7 separate regions of the Homo sapiens genome follow, and regions 1, 2, 3, 4, 5 and 6 are each linked to region 7. The links come from fine-mapping of genetic effects on gene expression. A gene starts in region 7. Each other region holds a variant in brackets. All regions are shown on one strand. Distances are between the middles of the regions.

The links. PIP is the estimated chance that this variant, and not a neighbour inherited with it, causes the effect.
Region 1: its variant is fine-mapped to the expression of MFHAS1 in whole blood (INTERVAL, PIP above 0.99).
Region 2: its variant is fine-mapped to the expression of MFHAS1 in whole blood (TOPMed, PIP above 0.99).
Region 3: its variant is fine-mapped to the expression of MFHAS1 in whole blood (TOPMed, PIP above 0.99). The same link has a PIP of 0.9 or more in blood mononuclear cells.
Region 4: its variant is fine-mapped to the expression of MFHAS1 in skeletal muscle (GTEx, PIP 0.96).
Region 5: its variant is fine-mapped to the expression of MFHAS1 in whole blood (TOPMed, PIP above 0.99). The same link has a PIP of 0.9 or more in blood mononuclear cells.
Region 6: its variant is fine-mapped to the expression of MFHAS1 in T cells (TOPMed, PIP above 0.99).

The regions. Positions count from the first base shown.
Region 1 is chr8:8,808,399-8,812,630 of GRCh38, reverse strand. The region is part of intron 1 of MFHAS1 (multifunctional ROCO family signaling regulator 1); the gene reads left to right. Among named protein-coding and RNA genes, the nearest start is that of MFHAS1, 83 kb to the left of the region's middle. The variant C/G (reference allele first, on the strand shown) is at 1,819.
Region 2 is chr8:8,862,999-8,867,230 of GRCh38, reverse strand. All of the region lies in intron 1 of MFHAS1 (multifunctional ROCO family signaling regulator 1), which reads left to right. Among named protein-coding and RNA genes, the nearest start is that of MFHAS1, 29 kb to the left of the region's middle. The variant C/T (reference allele first, on the strand shown) is at 2,214.
Region 3 is chr8:8,869,944-8,874,097 of GRCh38, reverse strand. The region is part of intron 1 of MFHAS1 (multifunctional ROCO family signaling regulator 1); the gene reads left to right. Among named protein-coding and RNA genes, the nearest start is that of MFHAS1, 22 kb to the left of the region's middle. The variant C/T (reference allele first, on the strand shown) is at 1,708.
Region 4 is chr8:9,218,258-9,222,489 of GRCh38, reverse strand. No RefSeq gene overlaps it. Among named protein-coding and RNA genes, the nearest start is that of PPP1R3B-DT, 69 kb to the right of the region's middle. The variant G/A (reference allele first, on the strand shown) is at 2,231.
Region 5 is chr8:8,852,706-8,856,937 of GRCh38, reverse strand. All of the region lies in intron 1 of MFHAS1 (multifunctional ROCO family signaling regulator 1), which reads left to right. Among named protein-coding and RNA genes, the nearest start is that of MFHAS1, 39 kb to the left of the region's middle. The variant G/A (reference allele first, on the strand shown) is at 1,734.
Region 6 is chr8:8,775,989-8,780,193 of GRCh38, reverse strand. No RefSeq gene overlaps it. Among named protein-coding and RNA genes, the nearest start is that of CLDN23, 76 kb to the right of the region's middle. The variant C/T (reference allele first, on the strand shown) is at 2,073.
Region 7 is chr8:8,891,336-8,895,563 of GRCh38, reverse strand. MFHAS1 (multifunctional ROCO family signaling regulator 1) reads left to right here and starts at 1,934. Exons shown (of 3, transcript NM_004225.3): 1 at 1,934-4,228. The coding sequence starts at 2,506. RefSeq lists silencers at 1,789-2,038, 2,049-2,328, 2,439-2,708 and enhancers at 2,553-3,513, 3,514-4,228.

The sequences.
Region 1 (4,232 bases), 83 kb after region 7:
CATATTCATTTGCACACCTAGGGCAAAAACCCCAGTCAAATATAAGAAGTAATGATTTCCAAGACCATGAGCATCAGGCAACAAAGGACAGTGATCCTGAGCTATGAGAAATGAAGGAGGCAAGCCCTGTCATTGCCCCAGCTTACTGTCTTGAGAGTTTCCAGGCTGTGGTGCCAGGAGGGTGGCCTAGATAGCCGACCCAGAGGAGAGAATTGCAGAAAGAAAGATCTCCAGAGATGTGCCCACCACCCTGGGACCCAGCAGCGTACTGACCAGCCCGTGTAAGTAACCAAGACTGGAGGACAAAAAGGGGGATGCTAAGATCTTACGCCGGCTTCAGTCTCCCCCTACCCCACACCCCTGAACCACTAAATGATTCTTCGTATCTCTGCCCTTTCCCCCTCAAAGGAAGCCATTTGCAACTACGATTCAGAAGAGGACATTTTGCACTACACTTACGGGCTTCTCCGAGCCATGTAATCCTCAAAATTGAGAAAATATTCTAAGAGGTTGGCATTGGAGTCGCCGCACATGGAACTTGACTTTGTTGTGGTTTTCTCTTTAGTTTGAAAAAGATCCAGTAATCTGGTAAGACAGCAAAGCAGGGTGACCACTTCCTGGAGTGCTTCTGGTTTTGGGGTTTTTTGTTTGCCCTTGGATGGCATGCGGAGAAGGTAGTACTGCCCAGGGAAGTCTGGAAGCTTCCTAGGTGGTGACTTGTGTACCCTGTGGAAGAAGAGGGTGTGGACTCTGGCCCCCGCAGCCTAACCCTGTGCCCCACCAGTGTCGGATTCAGAACCACACGCTTGAGGGCACTTGAGAGACCTCCGTGTTTATGCCCCAACTTATGGATTCGGGGATGGATGAGTTTCGTTCTTTAACATATATCTAGGGCCTGCCGTGTGCCTGACATTGTTCTGGATGCTTGGGATCCCACAGTGAGTAAGGAAAATCCCACTCTTGTGGAGCTTACGTCCCTGCAGAGGAGACGCAGCATCAGCTAGTATGCGTCAGGTGGACGTTAGTTACCCAAAGGAGAATAACCCTGGCCTTGGCCAGGCATGGCGGCTCACGCCGGTAATCCCAGCACTTTAGGAGGCTGAAGTGGGAGGATCACTTGAGACCATGAGTCTGAGACCAGGCTGGGCAACATGGCGAGACCTCATCTCTACAAAAAATAAAAATAAAAAAATGAGGTATGATGGTGTGTGCCTGTGGTCCCATTTACTTGGGATGCTGAGACTGCAGTGAGCTATGATTGCGCCACTGTACTCCAGCCTGGGTGACAGCGCAAGACCCTATCTCAAAAAAAAAAAAATTTTTATTCTGGTTTGCAATTATAATTTTTCAGAGGTTGAAGAGGCTTGGCAGTGCTGGGTTTAAATTAGTTGTGCAATTTAGTGCTTTTCCCGTCATCATAGATGCTGTGGGTTTCAAATGGCCTCAAGTCCCGGCTGGATTTTATTCTGCGGATGACACTTGGGTAGGGGAGTAGATAAAGAAAAGCTGGTGTTGAGAGAGGATTCCAGCTGGAATCCTCTCCCTGTAGTGCTGTGGGAGATGTTTCTGCCTGCGCGAGATATTATTCATGAGCAAAAGGAGAAAGTTGAGCCATTTCAAGGTTCCTTCTGGCCTTGAGGTGCTGTGGGTCCGATTGCAAGCCTGTGGGTTTTCTCCTCTCTCCCAGGACTCTTCAGGGAGGCCTCAGCTCTACCAGACCTCCCAGTCCCAACCTTCACTCCTTCTCCTTCCTCCCCTTCCTTGGAGAAAAATGAATCTGCAGAAATGTTAGGAGACAAGAAGCAAGTACACTTGACC[C/G]TTGAACAACTCGGGGTTTAGGGGCACTGACCAGCCCCCTCCCATGGAATCACATCCACATATAACATTTGACTCCTTAACTACTGATAGCCTATTGTTGACTGGAAGCCTTAACGGATAACATCAGTAGTTCATCAGCATGTATTTCGTATGTTTTATGTATTATATACTGTGCTCTTACGATAAACTAAGCTAGGGGAAAGAAAATGTTTAGAAAATCATAGGAAGAGAAAATGTATTTACTGTTCAGTGGAAGTGGATTGTCATAAAGATCTTCATCATCGTCTTCGTATTGAGTGAGCTGAGGAGGAGGAAGAGGAGGGGTTGGACTTGCTCTCTCAGGAGGTGGCAGAAGTGGAAGAAAATTTCCTGTAAATGGACCTGCATGGTTCAAACCTTTGTTGTTCAGGAGTTGACTGTATACGCCTTCTGATCATTTGTTTTTTCCCAAGACGGTCTTGCTTTGCCGCCCATACTGGAGTACAGTGGCATGATCTAGGCTCACTGCAACCTCCACCTCCCAGGTTCAAGCGATTCTCCTGCCTCAGCCTCCTGAGTAGTTGAGATTACAGGTGCCCACCACCATGCCTGGCTAATTTTTGTATTTTTAGTAGGATGAGGTTTTACCATGTCGGCCAGGCTGGTCTCGAACTTCTGGTCTCAAGCAATCTGCCCGCCTCGGCCTCCCAAAGTGATGGGATTACAGGCGCGAGCCACTGCGCCCGGCCTGGCTTCTGATCATTATTAAGGACTTCACATGATTCCCCTTAGTACTTCAAAGTCAGGTAGATTTTGATAAGGTCCTTGGGCGCTAGTTTTATAATTTCAGGTCATAAGGGTTCGTCCTATTTTCTCTTGCAAGGAAAATGAATGTTGGGGAGAGAACGTTGTCGTCTGAATGCTTTTATGCCGTCTGCAGTAACCTCTCTGAGTCTGGAACCATTTTCCAGTAAGAAGTAGGTGACAGGCTATCAAAATAAAGAGTAACCTTTTGAAAGCACTTCAGTGCAGCACTGTGGGCTTTTTATAATCTTGACTTGTGTTTTGTGAGAGGAGAGGGCTGAGCTAGGTTTGTGCTCTGCTCCTCCCCCTCCCCCTCTCCCCAACTGTCTTTGATCTGTGAAGCTTGTCTCATCCTTAGCCAAGTCTGCTGGAACTTTATCCAGAGCAGGAAAAGGGGAAATAGTTTTCCTTTCTTGGGTGGATTTGTATTTATATAAACCCTTAGCGAGCAAAATGGAGCCAAGTGGCACACGCGTCTGCAGGGAGGCGTGGTGGGACGAGTGAGTGGCGGGAAGAGGCGGCTTTGACTTGGGTCACATGGTGTCAGACCTTTTTAGGGTCAGTGAGGAGAGGATGGTGTAAGTCCTTGTGCACATTTTCTTAAGGACATACTTACATGTCGGGCCATTGTAGAGCAACAAAGGGCAGGGTGTGTGTGCATCTCACTGTATGTCTATATCACCAAGAGCAGCTGTCTCCAACCTTGTTCGGCACCACAGACTGGGGTTGGTGGGATGGTTTCATGATGATTCAAGTGCATTACATTTGTCGTGCACTTTATTTCTACTATTATTACATTGTAATAGATAATGAGATAATTATACAACTCACTATAATGTGGAATCAGTGGGAGCCCTGAGCTTGTTTTCCTGCAACTAGCTGGTCCCATCTGGTGGTGATGGGAGTGACAAATCATTAAGCATTAGATTCTTACAAGGAGCGCGCAACCTAGATCCCTCACATACAAGTTCACAGTAGGGTTTGCCCACTCTTATGAGAATCTCATGCTGCCCTGATCTGACAGGAGATGGAGCTCCGGTGGTAATTTGAGCAATGGGGAGTGGCTGTAAACAGATGAAGCTTTGCCTGCTCACCTACCACTCACCTCCCTCTGTGCTGCCCATGGACGCGTACCAGTCCATGGCCCTGGCGTTGGGCACCCTTGCTATAGAGTCATTCCTCCAACCCTTATTTGCGGGGGATGCTTTCCAAGTACCCTACTGGATCCTGAAACCACCAATGGCACCAAACCCAATTGCCATCAATTGGAAAACGTTTCCGGTCATATCTTTTGCCCACAAATGTAATGTCTTTTTCATCTTAACTAAGCACTTAGCAGGTGCTGTAACCATACCTTTTGCAGTTTGAGGTGTAGCAGCAAAACTAGCATGGATTTATTTTTCCTTTTTCACAGTTTCACAGAATATTCATTCTCACTGTAGATCTGGTAATTTCAGCATGCAATTTTTTTTCTTTCCTTATTAAGTCAAGACCTTTCAGCTTTTTACTAAAGCACTTAACAGCTTCTCTTTGGCAGATCCAAATCGCCAGCATCACTACTCTTACACTTTCGGGCCATTATGAAGTAAAATAAGGGTGACGTATTAAGCACTGCAACACTTTGACAGTGG
Region 2 (4,232 bases), 28 kb after region 7:
ACCATTGTGACTTTCATAAAACCCCACAGCCTGTGTTTAATTCCATTTCCTACTAGTACAGACTTGAAGAGCTCAGTCCATCTCCTTTATTATCTTGTTTCCTTTAATCTATATTAATGCACCTTAGCAGTATCAGAAATTTTGTTAATATATTATGTGTAGCTGAACTGTAAGCTAAAAATAGATCATACCAACCCATCTCTCTTTCTCTTTCTTTTTTTTCCCACTGTCACCTTCACATTTATTCTTAGTGACTTGCAAATGATGGGATTACACCTTAAAAATTGTCTTGTATCAGATATGTATTTCCCCATTCTCTAAAGAAGGCTAATTATGCAAGTACACGGTTCTTTCCTGATTCATGAATTCATATCACGATTTTATTTTCAGATTCCTCAAGGTAATTGCTTGTTAGACTGGTTCACAGGATGAGAGATATCCAAGTAGTCATATGAACCGTTTCCGTCCCATTCATGCCATTCTGTCTTCTGCAGAAAATAAGTGAGTCAATCACTGTTTATGAGAATGTGTAAGAGACTGGGGAGAGAGAAGGGACTCAGTGGCCATTTTGTATCACGGATCCTTTTTACTAGGGATAAGAGTGATCCTTACTGGCTGACTGCAGTGGCTCATGCCTGTAATCCCAAAACTTTGAGAGGTTGAGGTGGGAGGATCGCTTGAGCCCAGGAGTTGAAGACCAGCCTGGGCAACATGGCAAAACCCCATTTCTACAAAAAATAAAAAATTAGCTGGGCGTGGTGGTGCATGCCTGTAGTTGCAGCCGTTGGGGAGGCTGAGGTGGGAGGATTGTTTGAGCCAGGGCGGCAGAGGCTACGGTGAGCTGAGATTACGCCACCGTACTCCAGCCTAGAGGACAGTAAGACCCTGTCTCAAAAAAGAAAAAAAAAAAAACAAAAAAGAAGTGATCCTTGCTAAGTTGCCATAGATCCCTGTTCTAGGTTCCCATTCAGCGTCAGAGTTTTATCGTCTGATAAAACAGGGATCAGTTAGAGAGCTTTTCGCAGGCAAAATGACACTGATTTTACTGAACCAATGGTAAAGAGAAGTGCTCCTAGGTTCCCAGGCCCTGTTCTTCTGTATTCTTCCTGCTTAGAAAAAGAGAATAATAAAAGCACTTCAGCTAGGAGTAGAGCTTTCTAAAAATTGGCCAGCCAAATCCCCAGGGAAACCAGGATTTCAGCTTCTCTGTCATCACCTCTGTTTGAGGTTGGCATGCTTTGGCACTTTTTCCGTGGCTGCACTGTCAGGAGAGTAGGCCAAGCCGCCTGAACAAGGAGAGGTGTGGAGGACAGTCATTCTGTAGCTGCAGTAATCCCTGCCCTAGTTTTTCTGCCTTCCTGAGAGAAATAATAGACACCACTTGTTTTACATCAACCAGGCTTCTGACCTTTTTGGACTATGAAAATTAAATTCTTCTAAGACACTAAGTGTTAAATTTGGGACCCAAAAATAGTTGGACTAAGTGGCTGCCTGGTTTAATAGTGGCAACTCAGTTCAGATAATAATTACTAGAAATTTCAAAGAAGTTATAGGAGCCTCACCTTGAGTAGACTAGGATTTGACAGTTGAGTGATATACAATTGTACTTAACAGCCATTTTCTAAAATGAAGTTTTCTGGACAGTAATTCATGTCAAGTGTCATCTGTTGCTTTTCTATGTGATTCCACTTCACCAGGGCTGTCCTGGGAGGGGTCCTTGGTTGTGTTTAGCTTTCATCGAGTTAGGGTAGTAACTCCTAGTCTCCTTCCTCTCCATCCTCTGTACCTTGTGTCTCTTTTCCCATTTCTGATTTTTGTATCCAGGAGTTTCTGATTTTTGCCTTTTGAGTTTTGTTTCTTAAACTAAGTGGAGCTAGGTTTTTATGGGGAAATAATTTCTCAGCCTGTCATCTTGACAGTGAAACATTTCTTTTTTTTTTTTTTTTTTTTTTTTGAGATGGAGTCTCACTCTGTCATCCAGGGTTGAGTGCAGTGGCACAATCTTGGCTTACTGCAACCTCCAGCTCCTGGGTTCGAGCGATTCTCCTGCCTCGGCCTCCTGAGTGACTGGGATTACAGGTGCATGCCACCGTGCCCAGCTAACTTTTTGTATTTTTAGTAGAAATGGGGTTTCACCATGTTGGCCAGGCTGGTCTTGAACTGCTGACCTCAAGTGATCCACCCACCTTGCCCTCCTCAAGTGCTGGGATTAC[C/T]GGCATGAGCCACCAGACCTGGCCTGAAACATGTTTTTGGTTTGTTTTTTAATCTAGGTGGAAACTAGATACCCTTTCTAGTAACTAATATGTGGTTCATACCTAAAGCCAAAAGAAATCTCAAGTAATTTTTTGGATGAGACAATTTCGGCACCATGTTATATAACTTTATGATATCATCTTATCTGAGTCCTCTCTCTCTCCCTCTCTCCTTCCCTTTCCTTTTTTCCCTAGTGCCTGTAGGTGTGAGTTTAAAGATAAAATGACTGCCAAGTGACCCCAAGTTCAAGGACTTTTATCCTGGCATGCAACTGGAAAATTCAGTTTACATGATACATTTCAAAAGTGTCTGGTGGGTAGCTGGTACAAATGATAGGAAGAGAGTAGCTAATTTTATGCTCATTGTGGTTCTGTAAGATGATGTAAATATATGAGGATTTTAGGAGAAATAAAAAGTGATCTCACTGAAACAGTTATTTGTAGATTGCATTTTGACTTGTCTGAAACACATCAAGGTTAACATAAGAATATTTAGGATATGAATTTGGTCCAAGGAACATTAAAAATATTTTTACTTGGTGATTCTGATAGGAAGACATTGTTTCTACTAATGTGGGAGGGTGGGCAAAGAGGAGGAGGAGTCGGGCAGGGCCATTTTGTTGCTTGGTGTGAATGGCATCCTTGAATCGTGCAGTGGGCGGCCCTCATGGCCAGTAGCAGCAGATTTGGTTGAGCATAGGGGCAGAAAATGGCTTTGTTTTTTTAACTTACCCTTCTGTGTTTATGTTACCAGAACACCAGAGATTTGGTTTAGGTCCTGCTGCTTGCCGCACAGAAAGCCAATCACTGCTGAGACAAGTGTTGCCAGGGAAGAAGGCTTTAATCGGGTACTGCAGCCATGGAGATGGGAGCTCAGTCTCAAATCCATCTCCCTGACCAACTAAAATTGGGGGCTTATATAGTGGGAAGGCAATGTAACTACATGCCGGTAAACAGGAATTAGGAAGGTATAAGGAAGAGGAGTTGGTCAACAGGAAGCTGGTGGTCACTGAGGCAGCCATAATGGGTGAAGGGTCTGGTGTCTCCTTGTCCAAATGCAGTGATCTGGTGAGTTTCAGCTCCTTGATATCTGGGAGCCCTGATGGTTGGTTTTCTGAGAAAGGAATTCAGATAAAACAAATGCAACTTTCTTAAGTTTTAAGACAGGGTGGGTCAATTTCTAAGCTCATTAGAAACTGCATATTAATAGATTAGTTCTGTGAGATGATGGGGTGGGTTTCAGTTACAGGTAAGGGCCAGACTCTTAGTGAAAACAGGCCATGGTCTGGGTTAAGGACCAGTATGTTAGGGAAATGATTCTCTGAGGAAGTCCAAATAGGTAGGAATCAGATGGTCAAAACAGAGGTTAGAAACATTTTAATGATATGGTCTGGAAAAATCTAAGGACTAGAGACCACGGGTGCAAGGGGTTATGGCCAGTGGAACAAGAAAAGATCATACGTGGTAATAAATATAGGTAACAGTCCATTCTGGATGAGGTCAACTGGGCAGGAATTCTTTATGCTCCATCTAGGCAGGAAATACATGGAGGCCTTTGAAGTCCCACTGGCATGTGTGCAAGGAGCCACTGTTAATTTACACAGGAAAAAGGAATGGAGGGAGTAACAGCATCAGTTTGAGGTCCTGTGATATATCCATTGGGGGTGAATTGTCCCACAGTTATTAAATTATTTAAAAATCAGTACTGTATTCTAAGTTACACTGCCTGATTTCAGTGCTTACTTTCCGGCTATAGTAATTAAGACAGTGTAGTATTGGCGTAAGTATAAACAGATAGATTGATGGAACAGAATAGACCCACACATACATGCCCAATTGATTATGGACAAAGGTACAAATATAATTCAGTGAGGAAAGAATATTTTCAAGTGGTGCCAAAACAATCAGATAATTGTATTAATAAAAATGAACCTTGAGTCATTCCTTGTACTATATACACAAATTAACTTGAAATGGGTA
Region 3 (4,154 bases), 21 kb after region 7:
AAAGTGGTGGGACCTAAAAAAAGCCTCGAGGGTTATGAAGGCTTCGCTTTGTGATTTGAAACAAGGTAATTTTTTTAAATTGGCTTTGGTGATGTGTATTGGAACACCATTGTTTTCAGCATAATTACGCATTTCACAGCTTAATTCAGCCATTACACGTGATGCAGTGTTTAGACATAGCAATAATTACAAATTGTACATGTTTACAGATAGATATACCGCTGATCAAAATAAAACAGTGGCAGCAAGAATGATGTTCTGTCCATGTAAGAAATCAATGAAATATAATTAAGAACGAACTGTATCTCATTGACTCAAAACATTGCATCTGCCTTTCTGTCCCATCTGTTTTCTAAACAAAAATCTTCCCGCGCTGCGTGGTTGTTTTTATTTGTATCCTAGAACCATCCTCTCGAGTTCCACACCGTTGTATTTTCTACACCTAAGCTTGGTGTGTTCTGCACAGGAAATGTTTCTTGGATGTTTTATCCTCATACCAAGTGGGAATTTAAAATTTAAGAGATTACCCACACTCTTTGCCTTTCTGTACATGTGATGAAGAAAGAGTGGGTGTAACCCAGCACTCTAAAATGTGTTTGACCTGTAAAAAAAAAAAAAAAAAGTAAGCAATTAAATCCTGTTATAGTTGCTTCTGTGTTTAAAACATACTTAATGACGTATATATTTATTTCAAGCTAACAAAGTCCCCAGTCAGGTTCTTGGGAGTTTTTTTCACAGGACTCATTGAAGTGTTTGGTCTTTAAAATCCTTCATTTCATGCTAACTGCCAAGTCAATGCAGACAGTATGGCCGAACAGAGCTGGTCACATTTTCCCTGAACATGCTATTAAAAAATATATTCACTGGGATTCTCTTGACTCATGGCATAGCTGAGGTGACTTTGATTCCGGAGGGCTATTGCTTATGAATTGCATGTGGAAGAACTAAAAATAGAAATGTGAATTTTCCAAAAGAACACTATGATACCAAAAATGGCTCACTGGCTTGCCTAGAGCTGGGCTGTTTTGTGCCCAAGGTACAGTAATAAGAACTGGGATGCAAAGCCCTGTAGGGTGCATCTGTCCCCTTCCCTGACACCCCTCACTCCCAGATGGCTCACGAGTGGCACTGCCCGGTTGTCTCCGTCTCACTCTTGCACGATGTTCTGCTGCCTGTCTGGGATGGAGCAGGTGTTCTTTTGAATGTATTTGTTAAGCCTCTGAAATATATGCATTTCCCCCTCCCCAAGAAAAACACACATGTGCATGCTCTGTGCTTTTCCCTGGTTACTGTATTGTTCCCATCTTTTTTTTTATTTTTATTTTTTCCCTTGGAATAGGGAATATCCACTCATTTTCTATTTAGTCCCTTCAGGAATTTGCCTTAGGGGCTGTTGGGCCAGGCCTCACTGCAGCCAGCCAGAGCTTATCAGCTGTGTGTTAACCTCTCCCAGACACTTCTTGAATGCTGTTCATGCATCCGAGCCTATGCATCTGAGCCTCCTCTGTGTAATGTGGTGCGGCATTAAAAGCTTACCCAAATAGCAGGGATGATTGCATCTTGTTGATTACCAGGGCTGATAACATTTTCTTGCTTAGCTAAAAAGAAAAGCCAGATGACTGTTTCCAGGAAGTGATAAACTGCCATGCATCCGGCCCCAGGTGGTCCGCATGAAGGAAGCTGCAAGGTTGGAATCCTCCTGCCGTC[C/T]CCTTTTACAGTTCATAAATCTTCTGATTTATGGGGCCATTTGTGATTGCAGACACATTTATTCATGGGGGGATTTCCATCGAGATCATAACCCACTGTAAAGCAGGAGGAAGAATCAGGAATTAGAACGGTGTACATTCCTCTTTGTTAGAAAAGAATCCCGATTCTTTGGTCATAGACAAATATTTGCTTTTGAAGAATCTGGTGGTGTGTCGCTGGCTTTGTTCATATCCGTGCACAGTCACATGCTCCCTTGCCTCCCATGGACCCAGAAGCTTATGTTACACAGATCGTTTTATAATGCTTGCCATCCGGGCATGTTTATGCAAAGTGTGAATAACTTTTTGCCTTAGCCTCCTCTTCCTTCCTTCTCCCTCCTTTGATTTAGCTCATTTCTGGAATGGGGCAGATTTTCATCTCAGGGAGTTGATACGGTTTCCTAGGTAGGGTGACAGAACAAGTGTCACCTTAGCTGTAGCTAGAGATGAATATTGCCATGCAGCTTACTTGCTTTATATTAAACCAGCATTAGAGAAAGAGGCCTTGCATCTTTTATCAGCAGTATGTTAACCTCTCCCAGGCACTTCTTGAATGCCATTCATACATCTGAGCCCATGCATCTGAGCCTTGGATGTAATTAAATCAGTGGATTAGGAAGTCGGGGGCCTGGACCTCTGGGAAGCCACTTGGCCTCCCTGGGCCTCAATTTCGTCTGTAAATAGGTAAAAATAATTCTAACAGTTCCCAAGCATTTACACCTGCTATCAGAGTCTCCTTAGATGTTGTGAGGGGGAAATGAATGAATAGATGTCAAGTCCCCAAGTAGTTTTTTCTTTGTTTGCGTGTTTGTGATCACTCTGTTGCCCAGGCTGGAGTGCAGTGGAGTGATCTTGGCTCACTGCAACCTCCACCTCCCTGGTTCAAATGATTCTTGTGCCTCATTGTCATGAGTAGCAGGGATTACAGGCATGTGCCACCATGCCCAGCTAATTTTTGTATTTTTAGTAGAAACTGGGTTTCACCAAGTTGGCGAGGGTGGTCTCAAACTCCCGACCTCAAGTGATCCAGCCCCCTCGGCCTCCCAGAGTGCTGGGATTACAGGTGTGAGCCATCACGCCCAGCTGCAAGTAGTTTTTACCATATAATAAGGGCTCAGTAAACATTAGCTCTGATTACCATCATCCTGGTTTACAGATGAGGAGTGGAGACAGAGGAGGGCTAAGTCATATGGCCAGGGGCACACAGCATGTAGCAGAGCCCAGGTTGTCCTCAGGAACCTATGGTCTTTGCTGTCACCCTGTGCTGCTTCTCAGGAAGGCAATAGCTTGTCACCCATTAAAAATGGGTAGTTATTTGAATGAAAAGCAGAATAACCCCCGGAGGCAGAGGTTGCAATGAGCTGAGATTGCACCATTGCACTCCAGCCTGGGCAACAGAGTGACGCTCCTGTCACCAAAAAAAGAAAAAAAGTAAGGACTCCTTGTGTGAAATGCACATGGTTGCTTTTAACATTGCAGTACTGGACTATAAACATTTGCTGGGGATTGGCAGTGACCAGCCATGGGGCAGAGCATGGGGCATGGGAGGGGAGCAAGGCCTTGACCCCGGGAAGCTGCAGTCCAGGGAAGCAGTGTGGACAGTAAGCAGAGATTTGCAGGGCTGTGTAATAAATTCCAGGAGAAAAAGATCTCCAGGGGCTCGGAGAGGCCTGCGGGATGGAATCTGTCTTGATCCACGTGTGTGTGTGTGGGGTGGTTAGATGGATGGGAGGTCTCCAGGGGAGGTGAGTCGTAGGGACTTTCTGTAAAACCAGGGCCCCTGACGTGTGATGGGCTGTACAAATTACTGGCAGCCCAACTATTCATTTATCAATGCACGTCTGTAAATATTTTTGTTTTCTTTTTAAACCTTTTTTGTTTTCCTGGGAGACAGAGTCTTGCTCTGTCATTTAGGCTGGAGTGAGGTGGCGCGATTTCAGCTTACCACAGCCTCAACTTCCTGGGCTCAAGCTATCCTTCCACTGCAGCCTCCCGAGTTAGCTGAGACTGTAGGTGCGTGCCACCATGTCTGGCTAATTTTTTTTTTTTTTTTTTTTTTTTTGTAGAGACAGGGTCTCACTATGTTGCCTAGGCTGGTCTTGAACTCCTGTGCTTAAGTGATCTGTGCATCTTGTCCTCCCGAAGTGCTGGGATTACAGGTTGAACCACTGTACATATCCCGTGTAAATAACTTTTAGCCTATCTATTCACTAGCTAACACTTTTTCACCAGAAGGAACTTCTGGCATCTGGGTGTTAAGCTAAATTAAAGCCTGATGGTTTTTTTCAGAGGGTGAGAGGAAAATACTGAAGGGTCAAATGGGGAAATGTCAAATTTCCATTTTGTCAGCACACTCAGGGCAGCAGTGTGGAAGATGGATTTCAATGGAGTAAGAATGGAGTCAGAGGG
Region 4 (4,232 bases), 330 kb before region 7:
CTCTACCATGCAAGTGTCCAGAAATCCAAACTATAAGATGCTCCATGTCATTGGATGTGTAAAGAGAGGAAAAAGAATGTCATTTTCTTGAATTCTTGGTTGAATGTGATACTTTGTGATACGCTCATTGCAGTGAAGGCTGAGCTCTCTGAGGACAGTTTGAGTTATAATTGAGAGTCATTAAATGGCTTACAAGGAGGTGGGTGCAGTTATCTATAGTAGGACTAACGTTTGCTAGTAGGGTGTGCAGGACTGGGCCAGAGCTGAACTGATTAGAGCAGTAGAGAAGAGGACCAGAGCTGCTGCGAGCCAGTCTTCCTTGCTTGACCCCAAGTCACAGTTAGACAAATATTGAGAGCATATCCATTTGAAGGAACCTAAAATTATTAACTAATGACTATTATTTATTAACTGCCTAGGGTACCCGTAGTGTCCTCATCAGGCTATATCTAGAGAAGTGAGCTGAATTTTAAACATAACATTTCAAGATTGACTTTGGCAAATGTTAGCTTCTGAGGAGTGAGGGAGAAGGCTGAGAGGGATGAGGGAACTGTTGAGATCCAGAGCTGGAGTAAGGAGTGAGTCTGCCATGAAGGTGTCCAGGGATCCAAACTATAAGATGTTCAATATCACTGGATGTGTAAGGAGAGGGAGAAAATGTCATTTACCAGAATTCTTGGTTCAATGTGGTACCTCCTGATATGCTCATTGCAGTGATGAGTATATGGTCAATTGCCTCCCATGTGAGTTTGAAGAACTACAGACGTGCAACCTAAGAGAGAAGACTAAGAATATTCAGAAGATTCTCATGTAAATGGTGGAGCAGATTTATCCTAATCTCTGATTCTCTGGACATCAACTGGGTATCCAACAATTCAGTTTAATTCTGACACTACCTGGAGTTAGCCTCAGATCCCACAAGTTAAAGGGGCTCAGTCCCACACACTGCTCTCCCTTAAGACATCAGTTATAGGTACTGGGTTCCCAGGTCACCTGAATTTGTCTGACTTTGCTACAAGTTCCAGGGTTTGCAGCATGCCACCCGCCACCTGCCCTCGCCCCACGCCACATTTCCTTAATTTGCTAGAACAACTCAGAACTCAGGAAAATGCCATACTTGGAACTATATTTTATTATAAAGGATGGGAATGAACAGCCAGATGAAGAGGTACATAAGATGAGGTCCAAAAATGTCCTGAGCACAAGAGCCTCTGCCTCTTTGGAGTTGAGGTATGCCTCCCTCCCGGCACATGGATGTGTTCACCAACACAGAAGCTCTCATTCAGATTTTACGAAGGTTTCATTACGTTGGCTTGATGGATTAACTCATTGGCCATTGGTGATTGAATTCAATCTCCACTGCCTCTTTCCTCCCCATAGGTTGGGGACAAGAGCTGAAATTTCTAACCCTCAAATAATGGCGTCATGTTTGACCAGCCCCCATCCTGAAGCTATCTGGGAGTCCCACTCTGGGGGTTCATCTCATTAGCCTGAACTCAGGTGTGATAGAAAGGGGCTCTCATTACAAATAACAAAAGACACTCCTATCACTCAGGAAGAAGTTCCAAGGGTTTTTGTTTTGTTTTGTTTTGTTTTTAGAAGCTCTGTGCTAGGAACTAGGGACAAAGACTAGATATATTTCTTATTATGCCACATCTGTATTATCCCTAGCATGGATTACTAGTGGAAGTTACAAGAAGGCAAGTTTTAATTAAACATGAGAAAGGATTCCCTCAAAATTAGAGAGTCCCATCAGTTGAAGGTTGGTGTTGTCCCCTGGGTACTAAGACAATGAGCACCCTGCTCTCCAGATACAGCAGAGGGAGGCTAAGCTTATTAGGGTTGTAGAGATTCTCATTTAAAAAAAAAAAAAAAAAAGTTGAATCCAAATACCTTTAAGATTTTACCAGCTGCGTATGGTGGCTCATGCCTGTAAACTTAGCACTTTGGGAGGCCAAGGCAGGTGGACTGTTTGAGCCCAGGAGTTCAAGACCACCTTGGGCAACATGGCAAAAACTCGTCTCTACAAAAAATACAAAAATCAGCCAGGCATGGTTGTGCATGCCTGTAGTCCCAGCTACCTGGGAGACAGAGGTGGGAGAGTTGCTTGAGCCTGGGAGGTTGAGGCTGCAGTGAGCCAAGATCGCACCACTACACTCACCCTGGGCAACAGAATGAGACCCTATCTCAAAACATAAAAAAAATGTTTAGAAACCAACTTACCAACTTC[G/A]ATATTCTAAACTTAAAAAGAAAAATCAAAGATTTAGGATTTATATTTTAAAAGAACAATTCTTTTAAAATGTCAAAGTAAATACAGATCACATGGAGAAATTTCACGTTTTTCAGGTATCTTGCCAAATATCAAAATGACTTCTGCAGTCGTCCCCGGGCAGACAGAGGAGAAAAACACCCAGGGAATCCACATTTCGGCTCAACACCATTGCTATTGCTTCACCAGCACAGTCCCCACACCCGACTTTGCAAACTTGTGCACGCATTCCTCTCAAAGAAAGAGGTAGATCTGGGGGAAGTGTTAGGGTTGACCCAGAAAATCTGACTAATAGGAAAAAAAAAAGGTGTGTAGAGAATCTTCCTCAAAGTGCAAACTTACTGTTCAATGCCTCTTTGGAAAACCCTTTAAATTAATTTGGTCAGAAGCTATAATCATTGCTGTTTGTGTAGCCACAGATTCCTCTCCAAGAATGCACATAATTACAATTGGAAAAATAAAAAATCAGGTTTCCTTCTAAATTTGTTGCTAAATACATTGGATTATTGGGCCCACAAGTCACCAATCCTGAATCAGCTCCATTTTCAGAGTACAGAAGTGGTGAGATTGTTCTTACAGAGGCAGGCTGACAACAGTATTGTTACTATTGGCATCCAGCACAGAAAGTACACATTAATATGGCTAGCCTAGAAGAATGACTTATTGACTAAACAAAAGACCTCTATATTTCCAACCCTAGTTGTCACTGCTCTGATCTCATCTTACTCAACTTCTAAATGGCATTTGATCTAGCTGACCACATCCCATTTCTTGAATTATTAGGTGCTGTAGATTTCCTTAACACCACATTCTTTGTGATAGTTGTATTCTTGTTCCCAAAGATTCACGGTGTATCCCTGTGAGAGAATTACCCATCCCCTCAACCACCAGATTGATCATGGAAAGTGAATGCAAGTGACAGATGCTGCATTCCGGGAGAATATTTTAGGGTCCTTGCCTGGTTCTACCATCTCTCTTTGGCCTCCCCTGCAGGCTGCTCTGATGGGCGTGTATCTTTCAGTCTGGGTCTGGAAGGAAGATGTAGAATAGACTGACAGTAGGACTGCAGCCACCATGTAACTTGAGTGAGAAATAGACCTTTTTTCTCAGAAGGCACTGAGCTACAGGGACTGTTTGTTGCCTTGCATAATAAAATTTGAATAATGCACACCCCCTCCCCAGTATTCTCTAACTTCAGTGTTCTTTTAACAGTGGAAGTGGTGAGCAGTGACCTGATGCAGAGCGTATGTCAGAGGGGAACCAGAGAATGGGCTGATAGGTTGAGTAAAAAATATACAAGATAGGATCAATGTCTGACTTCTAGATTTTTAAATTTAGGCAGCTGGCACATAGAAATGCCATTTACTGAAATGGAGAAGAGTGAGGCAGGAAAAAATTTTGGCAGGGGGACATCAAAAGTTTTGGTTGGGACACATTATACTTGAGCTATATATGAGTCTAGACTAGAAGTAATCAAACTTTTTCTTTTGGGATCATAGAGTCCCTGTTATACACTCTTCTTTGATTTTTTCCCTATCTTTTAAAAGTATAAAGACCTTTCTTAGCTTTTGGGCCATACGGAAATGGATGCCAGGCCACAGTTGGGCTGTAGTTTGTCAAACACTAATTTGGAGCTTGGTGGAAAAAGCAGGGATTGAAATATGCATTTGGGCACAGAGATTGACCTAAAATCCCAGGACTAGTCATGAGCTCATGCAGGCAGAGAGATGAGCTAGAGAGGAAGACAGAGAAAGAGTGAGTGTTCTTTACTGAACTCACTCTTTCTCTGTCTGAGTTTTCAAGGTCTTTAAAATCCTGGTCCAGGCTGCCATCATCTCTTGTCTGGAACCACAAGATTCACTTGGGCTCCTGCTCCCCCACCCCGTTTATTCTTATTTATGACAGTAGCTTGATTTGTCAGAGATGACTCTGAGACCCCATGACTTGCTGCTAAATGACCTTC
Region 5 (4,232 bases), 39 kb after region 7:
AGATGAGAACTAGAATATATTTCTCTTTCTGATCTAGAGAATCCTAGTGGCTTCTAGGGCAGTGTATAAACAAAGCCCTGTGGCTGCAAGGTTTCCCGTGTGCAGCAATAAACTGATACATGCCGGTGACAGGAATCTGGCTCATGGGCTTGAAACCATCCATTAACTCATTAATTGACCAGACATCATGGGGGTCTGCTGAGTGCCATGGGGATGCTCTGTGCTGGGAAAGATGCAAAGATGAATAGGCTAGGAATAAAAGACCAATTTCATTTTTTAATGTGTCAGTATTTTTAATATTGAAATGTAGGACCTTGCAAGTAAAATACTATTAAGCTAATTTCCCAATTTAGAGTCTTTGAATTATTGTCTTGGATATTAAATATATTCAGTGTTTCCCACCAGTGGATCCCAAAGCCTCACCTGATATGTTTGGCAATTGTCAGGCCCTCTTTTTTATACTCCAGAGGAATTCCAACAGGAAATATGTACACACCATCCCTTACCTCCCTTGCTTCTTTTCTTTTCTGCGTCCTACTTTGTTTGATCTTGAAATACGGGGAAGTATCTTCTGGGCAAGTGCTGTTTCTGTGCCAGGCTGTGCAGGTCATGCTTGCCCCAGTGCCATGAGAAAGACACTCGAGTGAGCTCGGGACAGATCTCTCCAGCACTGTCCTGGCTTGACCCCACCTGACCAGTGACTCTTGTACCATGCCCAGCTCCTTTGGCTGCTGGAGCAAAAAGATCTAGGGAGTTTGTTTTCCAAATAAGGGCCCCAGATCTTACTTTCAGAGCTGTGCATGTGAGGAGTTCATGGGGAATCCCTCATCTCAGCAGACATGGGGAAGACCGTCTTCTAAACTGTAGTTCTGAAACAGGTAAACATTCAGTCCCCGCTCGCTTTCAAAGCACAAAAGTGAGGAGGCTTATTTGGCATTGAAATAACTGAGCATCTTTTCTCATCTGTGTTTCTGAATCTGTTATGGCCAGTGTTTTATAACCCCCTTCACATTACCTTGTCAGTAACTTGCTTCAGATGAAAATAACGGCAGAAAGCATAATTTTTTGTTTTTTTCTTTTTTGAGACGGCGTCTCACTCTGTTGCCGAAGCTGGAGTGCAGTGGCGTGATCTCGGCTCACTGCAACCTCAGCCTCCCAGGTTCAAGTGCTTCTCCTGTCTCAGCCTCCCAAGTAGCTGGGATTACAGGTGCCTGCCACCATGCCTGGCTAAATTTTGTATTTTTAGTAGAGAGTAGGTTTTGCCATGTTGGCCAGGCTGGTCTTGAACTTCTGACCTCAAGTAATCCACCCGCCTCGGCCTACCAAAGCGCCAGGATTACAGGTGTGAGCCACCGTGCCTGGCTGAAAACACTGTAGCGAGTTCATGAATCAGGATTAAAGAATCTGTGGGATATATAGAATGATAGAATAAATTCTATAACGTTCATTTTCATTGTGCAGGATGGAGACATTAGTGTGCATCTCAGTTAGGATTTAATTGCTCCTTCCCTGTGTTCTTGAAAGCGCTTGGAAAGCGCCTCCAATCCTCCATTGTATGATTCTAGTTCAGGTCTGGCTCTTTCACCAGACAATGAGCTCCTGTGGTAAGATGCCATGTCTTAATTCATCTGTTTTCCGCTTGTCCTAATACAATGTTAAGATTGCCAGATAAAATACAGGATGTCGGCTGAGTGTGGTGGCTCACGCCTGTGATCCCAGCACTTTGGGAGGCC[G/A]AGGCGGGTGGATCCCCTGAGCCCAGGAGTTCGAGACCAGCCTGGGCGACATGGCGAGACCTCTCTCAACAAGAAATAAAAAATAATTTTGGTATGCTGGGGGTGGGGGCCCTAGAACCAAACCCCCCATATATACTGAGGGAGGACCACGACTGTGGTCCCAGCTTCTTGACAGGCTGAGATGGGAGAATCACTTGAGCCCAGGAGATGGAGGCTGCAGTGAGCTGTGATAGTATCACTGCACTCCAGCGTGGGGTATAGAGTGAGATCCTGTATCAAAAACAAAGAAACAAACAAACAAAACCCCAAAAACCCAAAACCAAAAAAACAGGATAGCCAGTTAAATTTGAATTTCAGATAAACAATAAAGTGTTGCTTATGGGTGGGTCTCATGTATACATCTATTCTTACATCTGAATTTCACGTAAGCAACGAATAATTTTTAGTGTAAATATGTTCCATGTGATGTTCTGATTTAGTCATAATACATATTTTTTTCTTTCTTCCTTTTTTTTTTTTTGAGACAAAGTCCCCCTCTGTCATCCAGGCTGGAGTGCAGTGGTGCAATCTTGGCTCACTGCAACCTCCACCTCCAAGGTTCAAGCAATTCTCATACCTCGGCCTCCTGAGTTGCTGGGACTAGAGGCATGCACCACCTCACCTGGCTAATTTTTTTTTTTTTTTGAGACAGAGTCTCGCTCTGTTGCCCAGGCTGGAGTGCAGTGGTGCGATCTCAGCTCACTGCAAGTACGGCCTCCCGGGTTCACTCCATTATCCTGCCTCAGCCTCCGGAGTAGCTGGGACTGTAGGCGCCCACCACCAAGCCTGGCTGATTTTTTGTATTTTTAGTAGAGACGGGGTTTCACTGTGTTAGCCAGGATGGTCTTGATCTCCTGACCTCTTCTTGACCTCCCAAAGTGCTGGGATTACAGGCGTGAGCCACTGCACCTGGCCTAATTTTTATGTTTTTAGTAGACACGGGGTTTCACCATGTTGGCCAGGCTGGTCTTGAACTCCTGACCTCAAGTCATCCTGCCACCTTGGCCTCCTAGAGTGCTGGGATTACAGCTGTGAGCCACCACACCCAGCGTATATTTTTGTTTTGTAAATTGGGCAACCTTATACAATGCCCATGACTTACAAAGGATTTTTTGCTCCTAAATCAGTGTAATTTAATAATGTGAACACAACTAAGACAAATCAAGGTGTTCATGGAGTTGGTTGGTGTCTTTTATGGAATGCAACATGGGAATTGGAAATAGTAATTATCCACCTTCACCAGTGTGTTAGTGAGTATGGACCATTTAACCTACAACAGTTGGATAACCTTGACAATAGAAATAGGTAGCTAAGCCAGGGGTGGTGGCTCCTAGTACTTTGGGAGGCCGAAGTAGGGGGATCACTTGAGGTCAGGAGTTCGAGACTAGCCTGCCCAACATAGTGAAACCCTGTCTCTACTAAAAACACAAAATTTGCCAGGAGTGGTGGCGCATAGCTGTAATCTCAGCTACTCAGGAGGCTGAGACAGGAGAATCGCTTGAACCCTGGAGGCGGAGTTTGCAGTGAGCTGAGATTGCGCCATTGCACTCCAGCCTGGGCGACAGAACAAGACTCCATCTCAAATATATATACGTAGCTAGGACCTGACCTAATGGTTGTACCCACACTGTTTGCCTTGTACGTGCCAGGCACTAGCAATCTAAGTTGTGTGTGGTTTTTTTTTTTTTTTTTTTTTTTTAAGAATGAGCAGACACCTTGTGCGATTGTCCAGGTTAACTAACAAAAATAGTTGTCTGGGTTTATGGAACTGTAATTACGAGTCAGATCCTGGTTCCCTTCCGCTTTCTCTGCTATTTCTGGTTGCTCCTTTTTATTCCCAAAAGGTAGAAAGGGGCAGGTAGGACAGGAGCTTGCCGCCTGTTGAACTAGAGGGAGTAGCTTCCGAGCAAACTGTGACAAAATGGGGTATTTTAAGCCTCCATTTTTTTTGGGGGGTATGTGAGTGTGTGTGTGAGTCGGTGTATATGTACACAGTGCAAGTAAATAAGCCTGAGTGGGTGGCAAGAGCCTTGTTTGTGTAGTAGGAGAAATGGAGCCTGCAGGGGCATAGTCGGGGTCTTGAGAGCAGACACACGGACTGAGCCAGGCAGTTGCTGCTGAGAACAGAATCAGGACCTCCTGCTTCCTTTGGGTGATATTGGGTTTTTTAGGCCACCTTCCCAGCCACAAAGTAGGACTCTGAAATACATCCGGGTATAAATGTTCTTATGGAAATGCAATCACTTCTGACTTTAAGTATGTAGAAGTGAGGGCTCATACCCTTCTCCCAGAATGTAAATTTGACTCATCGGGGCTAACAACAATGATAGCCTAATATAAGAAACTGTTTACCGGACTCTGTTCTGATGTCAGCCAAGCTAGAGCTTTGCATGGTGGGATGCTTTCTCTTGGCTGTGCCCTATTAGGGAAGGCAAAAATAGAAAGCTTTTTCTCTGGACT
Region 6 (4,205 bases), 120 kb after region 7:
AGTAGAGGAAAAAAACAATTATTCATTGTCTCCAGCTTAGTAAATCTACATTTTACACAAGATAAGCTCAGTAAATCTACATTTTACACAAGATAAAGTTAACGTTTAAAGAGGGAGTAGAGGAAATGAGGCTGTGACATGAGGTTGTGAAATTACAGCTGTCTGGGAACAGAAGGAACAGCAGTTTTTGCGTGACTCAGTTCCCATGCTGAAGTTTCCCTTTGCCATCCTGAGTTTGGGATCCTGAGATTCTATTTTCCTTTCACTCTTTGAACACAGAGTGCCTGACACATGGTGGCAGCTTCTGTGCCAAATTCAAATGCCCAGGGCTTCCTTTGCCCATGGCTGCTGGTGCCCCCCAGTGGAACTGGCAGTGACAAAGGCCATCACCTGGTGGAAATGCTGCTCCTGCTGCCAAGTCAGAAGCGGGTGTGGAAGGACTGGAAGGGGTGTTAGAAAGCAGATGACCTTCTGAAGTGATCTGTGTTCGACGGCATGAGAAATTTCACCAGGTAACAGAAACCCTATTTGAATATTTGTAACCTCTTTCAGGGAAGCAATACTTTCTTCATCTTTAAAAACTAGGAATATTTTTTAATGAAATGAATTTTATTCTAAATGCTGAGAAGGATTCAGACTGCTTAATGGAACATTTGCGTCTCCTGAGGTACAAATACAGGCTCCCCTTTAAAATGATTCTGAGATCCAATAAGAAATGCTGCATTAAAGAAAGCTTAAAAGAGGCTGGGCATAGTGGCTCATGCCTGTAACTCCACCACTTTGGAAGGCCAAGGAAGGAGGATTGCTTGAAGTCAAGAGTTTGAGACCAAACTGGGCAACATAGTGAGATCCCCATCTCTACCAAAAAGAATTTTTTTTTAAATCAGCCAGGCGTGGTGGCATACTTGTAGTCCCAGCTACTCAGGAAGCTGAGGTGGGAGGATTGCTTGACCTCAGGAGTTTGAGGCCAGTCTGAGCAACACAGTGAGACCTCATTTCTACAAAAAAAAAAAAAAAAAAAAAAAAAAGGCCGGTGTGGTGGCACATGCCCCAGCTACTCAGGAGGCTGAAGCAAGAGGCTCACTTGACCCCAGTAGGTCGAGGCTGCAGTGAGCCATGATCACACCACTGCACTCCAGCCTGGGCAACAGAATGAGACCCTGTCTCTAAAGAAGAAAAAGAAAGCTTAAGACAGTGTTTGCTGCAGGACTCTGAGAACCATTTAGATACCAATACAAAAGGTGAATCCCCAAAAGCTGAGAGAATGTGCAGCATTTCCATGTGTATCTGAGCGTGGAAGGAAGACGCCTCTCCCCAGAGCTGTCTGGACATCCCCCCAGACCAGTTTTTCCAAAGTAGGGCCATGTACTCCAATGCAGTCTCAGGCGTTTGTAATTGAGGCACAGATGGCATCAAATCATAGAGAATCACTTGTCTTTTGCATTATGTAGGAGGCAGCTAGGTGCACTGACTCCAGACTGCCTCCATTTGAATCCTGGCTATCCTGAGCGTCTCAAGGTCAGATAACCAGATCCACACATATTTGTGTCTTTCCACAATGTCAGACTTTTGTTGATGCTATTTCAGTCACAGAAGCCACGAGCTACCTAGAATTACCAAGGAGGCGACTCTCCTTACTATTACCCATTCAGTCAGTAGTCAGAGGTGTGAGGCTCAAACCGTTCCACAAGTCAGTCAGCATTGCAAACCATACATGGTGTGGTATGCTTAATCGATATATAAATGTTATAGATTAAACATTCCACATCAAATAAAGTAAATTTTACATCAAGAGAGGCCAGGTGCAGTGAATCATATCTGTAATGCTAGCACTTTGGGAGGCCGAGGCGGGCAGGTCGCTTGAGGTGACGGGTTAGAGAGCAGCCTGGCCAACGTAGTAAAACCCTATCTCTACTAAAAATACAAAAATTAGCCAGGTGTGGTGGTGTGCATCTGTAATCCCAGCTCCTTTGGAGGCTGAAGCTGGAGAATTGCTTGAACCTGAGAGCCAGAGGTTGCAGTGAGCCGAGATGGTGCCACTGCCCTCCAGCCTGGGTGGCAGAGTGAGACTC[C/T]GTCTCAAAAAAAAAAAAATCAAGAGAAAAGGGATGAGGGAAAGAGTTAACCAGTCCAGGAAGAGCAATATAGACAAAAAGAATTTCCTGCAAGGTCTTGCAAGGAAGAGTCTTTTATGTGGGCACAGACTTCAGAGGTGGATGCCAGGTGCTTATCACAAGTGACAGCAAGACAGTGTCTGTTAAGATGGGCGTTTTGAGCTGGCGAAGTCCTGCTCTCCAGAGTCGTTTGGTGAGGCCTGATAGTGGAAAAGTGCGCCTGGTTTTGTCCTTATCTGGCTGGGTGCAGTGTCTATTGATTAGGTGAACATCTGGTCCCTGTCGGCATGATGGCTTTTAAAATGTAAGATGGAGTCTTTTTCTAAGATGGAGTTGCTTATGTTAATGCTGCTTGATCTGCTGCCTCTGCCATTTATTCTTTCTTGTCCCTCAGAGTATTAGTCCGTTCTCACACTGCTATAAAGAAATACTTGGCTGGGCACAGTGGCTTACGGCTGTAATCCCAGCACTTTGGGAGGTCAAGGTGGGTGGATTGCCTGAGGTCAGGAGTTCAAGACCAGCCTGGCCAACATGGTGAAACCCCGTCTCTACAAAAATACAAAAATTAGCTGGGCATGATGGTAGGTAGCTGTGATCCCAGCTACTCAGGAGGCTGAGGTGGGGGAATCGCTGGAACCTGGGAGGCAGAGGTTGCAGTGAGCTGGGATCATGCCACTGCACTCCAGTGTGGGTGACAGAGCGAGACTCCATCTGAAAAAAAAAAAAAAGAAAGATGAAAAGAAATACTTAAGACTGGGTAATTTATAAAGAAAAGTTTAATTGGCTCATAGTTTTGCAGGCTGTACAGGAAGCACGATGGCTTCTGAGACCTCATGAAACTTTCAATCATGGCAGAAGGTGAAAGGGAACCAGGCACGTCTTAGGGCTGGAGTAGGAAGAAGTGGGTGGGGCAGGGAGGGGTGGGGGTGGCATGGGGCTACATACCTAAACAGCCAGATCTCGAAATAACTCACTCACTATCGCAAGAACAGCACCAAAGGGGAAATCCACCCCCATGATCCAGTCACCACCCACCAGAACCCACCTCCAACCTTGGGTACTACAATTTGACATGAGATTTGAGTGGGGACATGGACCCACTATCACTCAGTTTCCTCTTGTGTAAAATGGGGAAACAATCTACCTCATACAATTGTTATAAATGTTAAATGAGATACCATGTATAAAGTGCTTATGACAGCACTAATCAAATACAATTGTTCTATTGCATAGCTCTCTCTTTTTTTTTTTTTGAGACGGAGTCTCGCTCTGTCTCCCAGGCCGGAGTGCAGTGGCGTGGTCTCAGCTCACTGTGAGCTCCGCCTCTCGGGTTCATGCCATTCTCCTGCCTCAGCCTCCGGAGTAGCTGGGACTACAAGCACCCGCCATCACACCTTGCTAATTTTTTGTACTTTCAGTAGAGCCGGGGTTTCACCGTGTTAGCCAGGATGGTCTCGACCTCCTGACCTCGTGATCCAGCCACCTCCGCCTCCCAAAGTGTTGGGATTACAGGCATGAGCCGCTGCACCTGGCCGCATAGCTCTCTTTATACAGAGAAAGCAGGCCTCAAGTTCAGAGCCTTTAACAGTGTGTAGCTAGAATGTTTAATTTTTGTTTTCATTATATTTATTAATTGGCTTTTTGCATGAGTGATAAAACATTTGTTTTAAAAATGAATGCATTTAGAAAGAAATACTTAAAAGTGTATTAGAAAAAGTTTTAATAAGTGCAGTTGATACACAGATGTAGAAAAAATGTGAAGATATGGTAAAAATTATGACAGTGGTATGTGAAAGTCTGCATAATATAATCAAACTAGACAGTCCGGGACTCCTGGTCTAATGTGATCCCACTGATTAATGCAACCCGTGGGAGAGACCAGGTGATTTGCCTGAGCAAGTCTGAAGCACCATAGAAGCTTTTAAAGATGACTAGGTGCAGTGGCTCATGCCTGTGGGAGAACTTTGGGAGGCCGATGTGGGTGGATCGTTTAAGCCCAGGAGTTCGAGACCAGTCTAGGCAACATGGCAAAAACCCATATCTAATAAAAATACAAAAATTAGCCAGGAACAGTGGCATGGGCCTGTAGTCCCA
Region 7 (4,228 bases):
TCCACACGGGGAGTTAGCAGTCCTGCCTCTACTCTACTTTGATGGCTGATTGAGAAGTCACTTACTTTGAGCCCATTTCCTCCTCTGTGGGGGAAAAAAAGGGTCAGCCTAGATAACTCAGAATATTTGTTGTAAAATTGACTGTCTCTGGGAGGGAGTGTGGGTGGGGCTACCCTGAGCCATCTGAACTCTCGGAAGTCCTTCAGAGTGAACACAGATCAGCTCTTGCTGTTCACTTACTCACATTTCATCTGTGGTGTCAGAGCCTCAGGGACCCAGCAGAACTGGGGAACATCCTCCAGTTACAGCATGTACTACCTGCAGCCTGATAACCATCACTGGGGTGGATTTCCAGCCTCAGATGTTCAGGTGCTCTTTTTGGAAACACACACTTCTCACGTTACTGCACCAAATATGGGTCCCCAAATGACAGCCATAGCGCATGTCGGGGAGAGCTGCAGTGGGTCAAGTGATGCCTTTAACCAACTGAACGCAGTTTTCGGTCCCTGAAAACTATTTGCTTCCTTATCAATCAACCTGAAGGGAATGATGGAGGTGACACTGGGAGTCTTGGTAGGTTTCCAGACTTTCATAAGTTCGGGAGAAATTATTGACTTAGCATAGATGTGAGCTCAAAGAAACATTTCCTAACAGCAATAAAAATAAGCATTAGAGTTGAACAATGGACTGTGACTGTTTCCCAAAATAGCTGTTTTCTTGAGTCCGCAGAACAACAGGTACTGTATTAATGGGGATACAGTATTTGTTTCACAGCGTTGTTGTGAAGATAAACGGGATACCCCAGATAAACAGCTTGTGTCCCCCCCATCTTAACAACCCTCCTTTAGGCTGGCGGGCCACCTGCTCAAAAGCCTTCCCCAGGGGGGTTAAAACCGTCTTTTAGTAGTTCTGGTACGGGTGGGCTGGGGGAGATCCTCTAAAGCCAGTGCGACCTTGACCCCAGCCAATGTCCAGGCTCTTGACACATCCAGAGAATGAGTTCAAGGACAACTCAGAAAATAGTGACAATATGCAGATTTATTGCAAAGGGAAAAGTACACACCCAGGAAAAGGGATTGTGGAGAGGGTCACTCACAACGGGGCTTGGGGCTGCTACCTTTATGGGTTTCTTTAACCAAGGGGTGAAATATTCATGAAAATTCCTGGAAAAGTGTGGAGATTTTTCGGGACTGTGGTGCCACCCATTTTTACTTCAAATATGGGTGTCCCCGGAATTGTCATGGCACTGGTGTGACTTAGGATGTTAAAGAGCGTATAATGGAGGCCTAGGAGAAACCTAGGTCAAATCCAGGACCACGTCGGGTCCAGCCGGTCTTAGCCAGCTTGGTACACACCCTGGTTTTCAGGGTCTTATCAGCCCATAGCCTCCAGTCAAGTGAAACTGCTGCCTGGTATTTTTTATTCTCCTCTGACCAGCCTGCATTACTCCTGTCCCATGTTCAACACGAAATAGGGCCTCAGGAAATATTTACCAAATGAATGAATGGTTGCCTGTTCTAATTTTGTTTAACCACACTCTTGTCCTAAGCTTCTATGATGATACCCAGGGCCCCCGAGTTGTGCCAGTTCCACTACGGCGTGGATGCAAGGCGAGCGGCAGGGGAGCAGGTAAAGGATGAGTAAGGGAAGCCGGCGGATCCGACGCATTAGAGAACAAGAAAAAGAAATCCTTAGAGACTGGGGGCCAACAAAGAGCCAGGCGCGGGCGAACCCACCAGGGGGGCCCCGGAGCCCCACATCCGCCGCTGGGACGACCTCCCCGCCCAGCATGGTCCGGGGCGCGGACCCGGCCCCGCGCCAGGCGCCCCCGGCCCCGCACCCGGCGCCCTCCGCAGCTCCCGCCCCCGGGGCGGTGCCGGGAAAACGCGGCGCCTCCGCCGGTCACGTGGGGGCCGCTCCGGCGGGCGGCGCTGCCGCTTCCCAATCGCGCCCTCCCAGCGCCGGGGACGCGGCGCCCGCGCTCCCGCCCGAGCCCGGGGAAACGGAGACAAGGAGGCGCCGCCGCCCCCTCCCCGCGGCTGCGCCCCAGCCCTGCGCCCGCAGCATGCCCGCCGCCGGGCCGAGCGCCGCCCTCCCCCAGGAGCTCGAGGAGGCGACGCCGCTGCCGGCCGCGGGACCGCGGCTGCGAGGGTAGCGGGGCCGGAGCCGGGCCCCCCGAGGCGCCGCGCGGCGGGCGGAGAGGGAGGAGGAGCAGGCATCCTCCGCGGCGCGCGGGCGGCGGCCCTGCTGCCCGGCGCGCCCATGGCCCGGCCGCAGGGAGAATGCAAGCTGCTCTCCACGCGCTCGGCGTCCCCCGGAGCCGCTCGCGTCGCCGCCGCCCCCTAGCCGCCAGCGCTCGGCCGCTGGCTGCGCTAGGACCCGCGGCCGCCGGCCGCCGAGCGCGGGAGGGCAGGCAGGGGCAGGAGCCGGAGGGCCCGGGGCGCGGCGCGGCATGTAGCTGCGGGCTCCCGCGTCCGCGTGAGGCTGTCGGCCCGGGGCCCCGCCATGGCTGGGATGGACAGTGGCAACCTGAAGACCGCGAGGCTGTGGCGGGACGCCGCCCTGCGTGCCAGGAAGCTGCGGAGCAACCTGCGCCAGCTCACGCTTACCGCCGCCGGGGCCTGCCCCGGGGCCGGGGCCGACGCGCTCGAGTCCCCCGCCTCCCCCCAGCTCGTGCTGCCGGCCAACCTCGGGGACATTGAGGCACTGAACCTGGGGAACAACGGCCTGGAGGAGGTACCCGAGGGGCTGGGGTCGGCGCTGGGCAGCCTGCGCGTCCTGGTCCTGCGCAGGAACCGCTTCGCCCGGCTGCCCCCGGCGGTGGCCGAGCTCGGCCACCACCTCACCGAGCTGGACGTGAGCCACAACCGGCTGACCGCCCTGGGCGCGGAGGTGGTGAGTGCTCTGAGGGAGCTGCGGAAGCTCAACCTCAGCCACAACCAGCTGCCCGCCCTGCCCGCCCAGCTGGGCGCTCTCGCTCACCTGGAGGAGCTGGATGTCAGCTTTAACCGGCTGGCGCACCTGCCTGACTCCCTCTCCTGCCTCTCCCGCCTGCGCACCCTGGACGTGGATCACAACCAGCTCACTGCCTTCCCCCGGCAGCTGCTGCAGCTGGTGGCCCTGGAGGAGCTGGACGTGTCCAGCAACCGGCTGCGGGGCCTGCCTGAGGATATCAGTGCCCTGCGTGCCCTCAAGATCCTCTGGCTGAGTGGGGCCGAGCTTGGCACGCTGCCCGCCGGCTTCTGCGAGCTGGCCAGTTTGGAGAGCCTCATGCTAGACAACAACGGGCTGCAGGCTCTGCCCGCCCAGTTCAGCTGCCTGCAGCGGCTCAAAATGCTCAACCTCTCCTCCAACCTCTTCGAGGAGTTCCCTGCCGCGCTGCTGCCCCTGGCTGGTCTGGAGGAGCTCTACCTTAGTCGCAACCAGCTCACCTCGGTGCCATCCCTTATCTCGGGCCTGGGCCGGCTTCTCACCTTGTGGCTGGATAATAACCGCATCCGCTACCTGCCGGACTCCATCGTGGAGCTGACCGGCCTGGAGGAGCTCGTGCTGCAGGGGAACCAGATCGCGGTGCTGCCCGACCACTTTGGCCAGCTCTCCCGGGTGGGTTTGTGGAAGATCAAAGACAACCCACTGATCCAGCCCCCCTACGAGGTCTGCATGAAGGGGATCCCCTACATCGCAGCCTACCAGAAGGAACTGGCTCATTCCCAGCCGGCGGTGCAGCCCCGGCTCAAGCTGCTCCTGATGGGGCATAAGGCTGCAGGAAAGACTTTGCTGCGCCACTGCCTCACCGAGGAGAGAGTGGAGGGATGCCCAGGAGGAGGGGACAAGGAGAAGTGCTACCCACCGTCACCTCCCCCTGTGAGCAAGGGCATCGAGGTGACCAGCTGGACGGCCGATGCCTCCCGGGGCCTGCGGTTCATCGTGTATGACTTAGCTGGGGATGAAAGTTATGAGGTGATCCAGCCCTTCTTCCTGTCCCCAGGGGCCCTATACGTGCTGGTGGTCAACTTGGCCACCTATGAGCCTCGCCACTTTCCTACCACCGTGGGCTCCTTCTTGCATCGGGTCGGGGCGAGAGTGCCCCACGCGGTGGTGTGCATCGTGGGCACCCACGCAGACCTGTGCGGAGAGCGTGAGCTGGAGGAGAAATGTCTGGACATTCACCGCCAGATCGCCCTGCAGGAGAAGCACGACGCGGAGGGACTGAGCCGCTTGGCCAAGG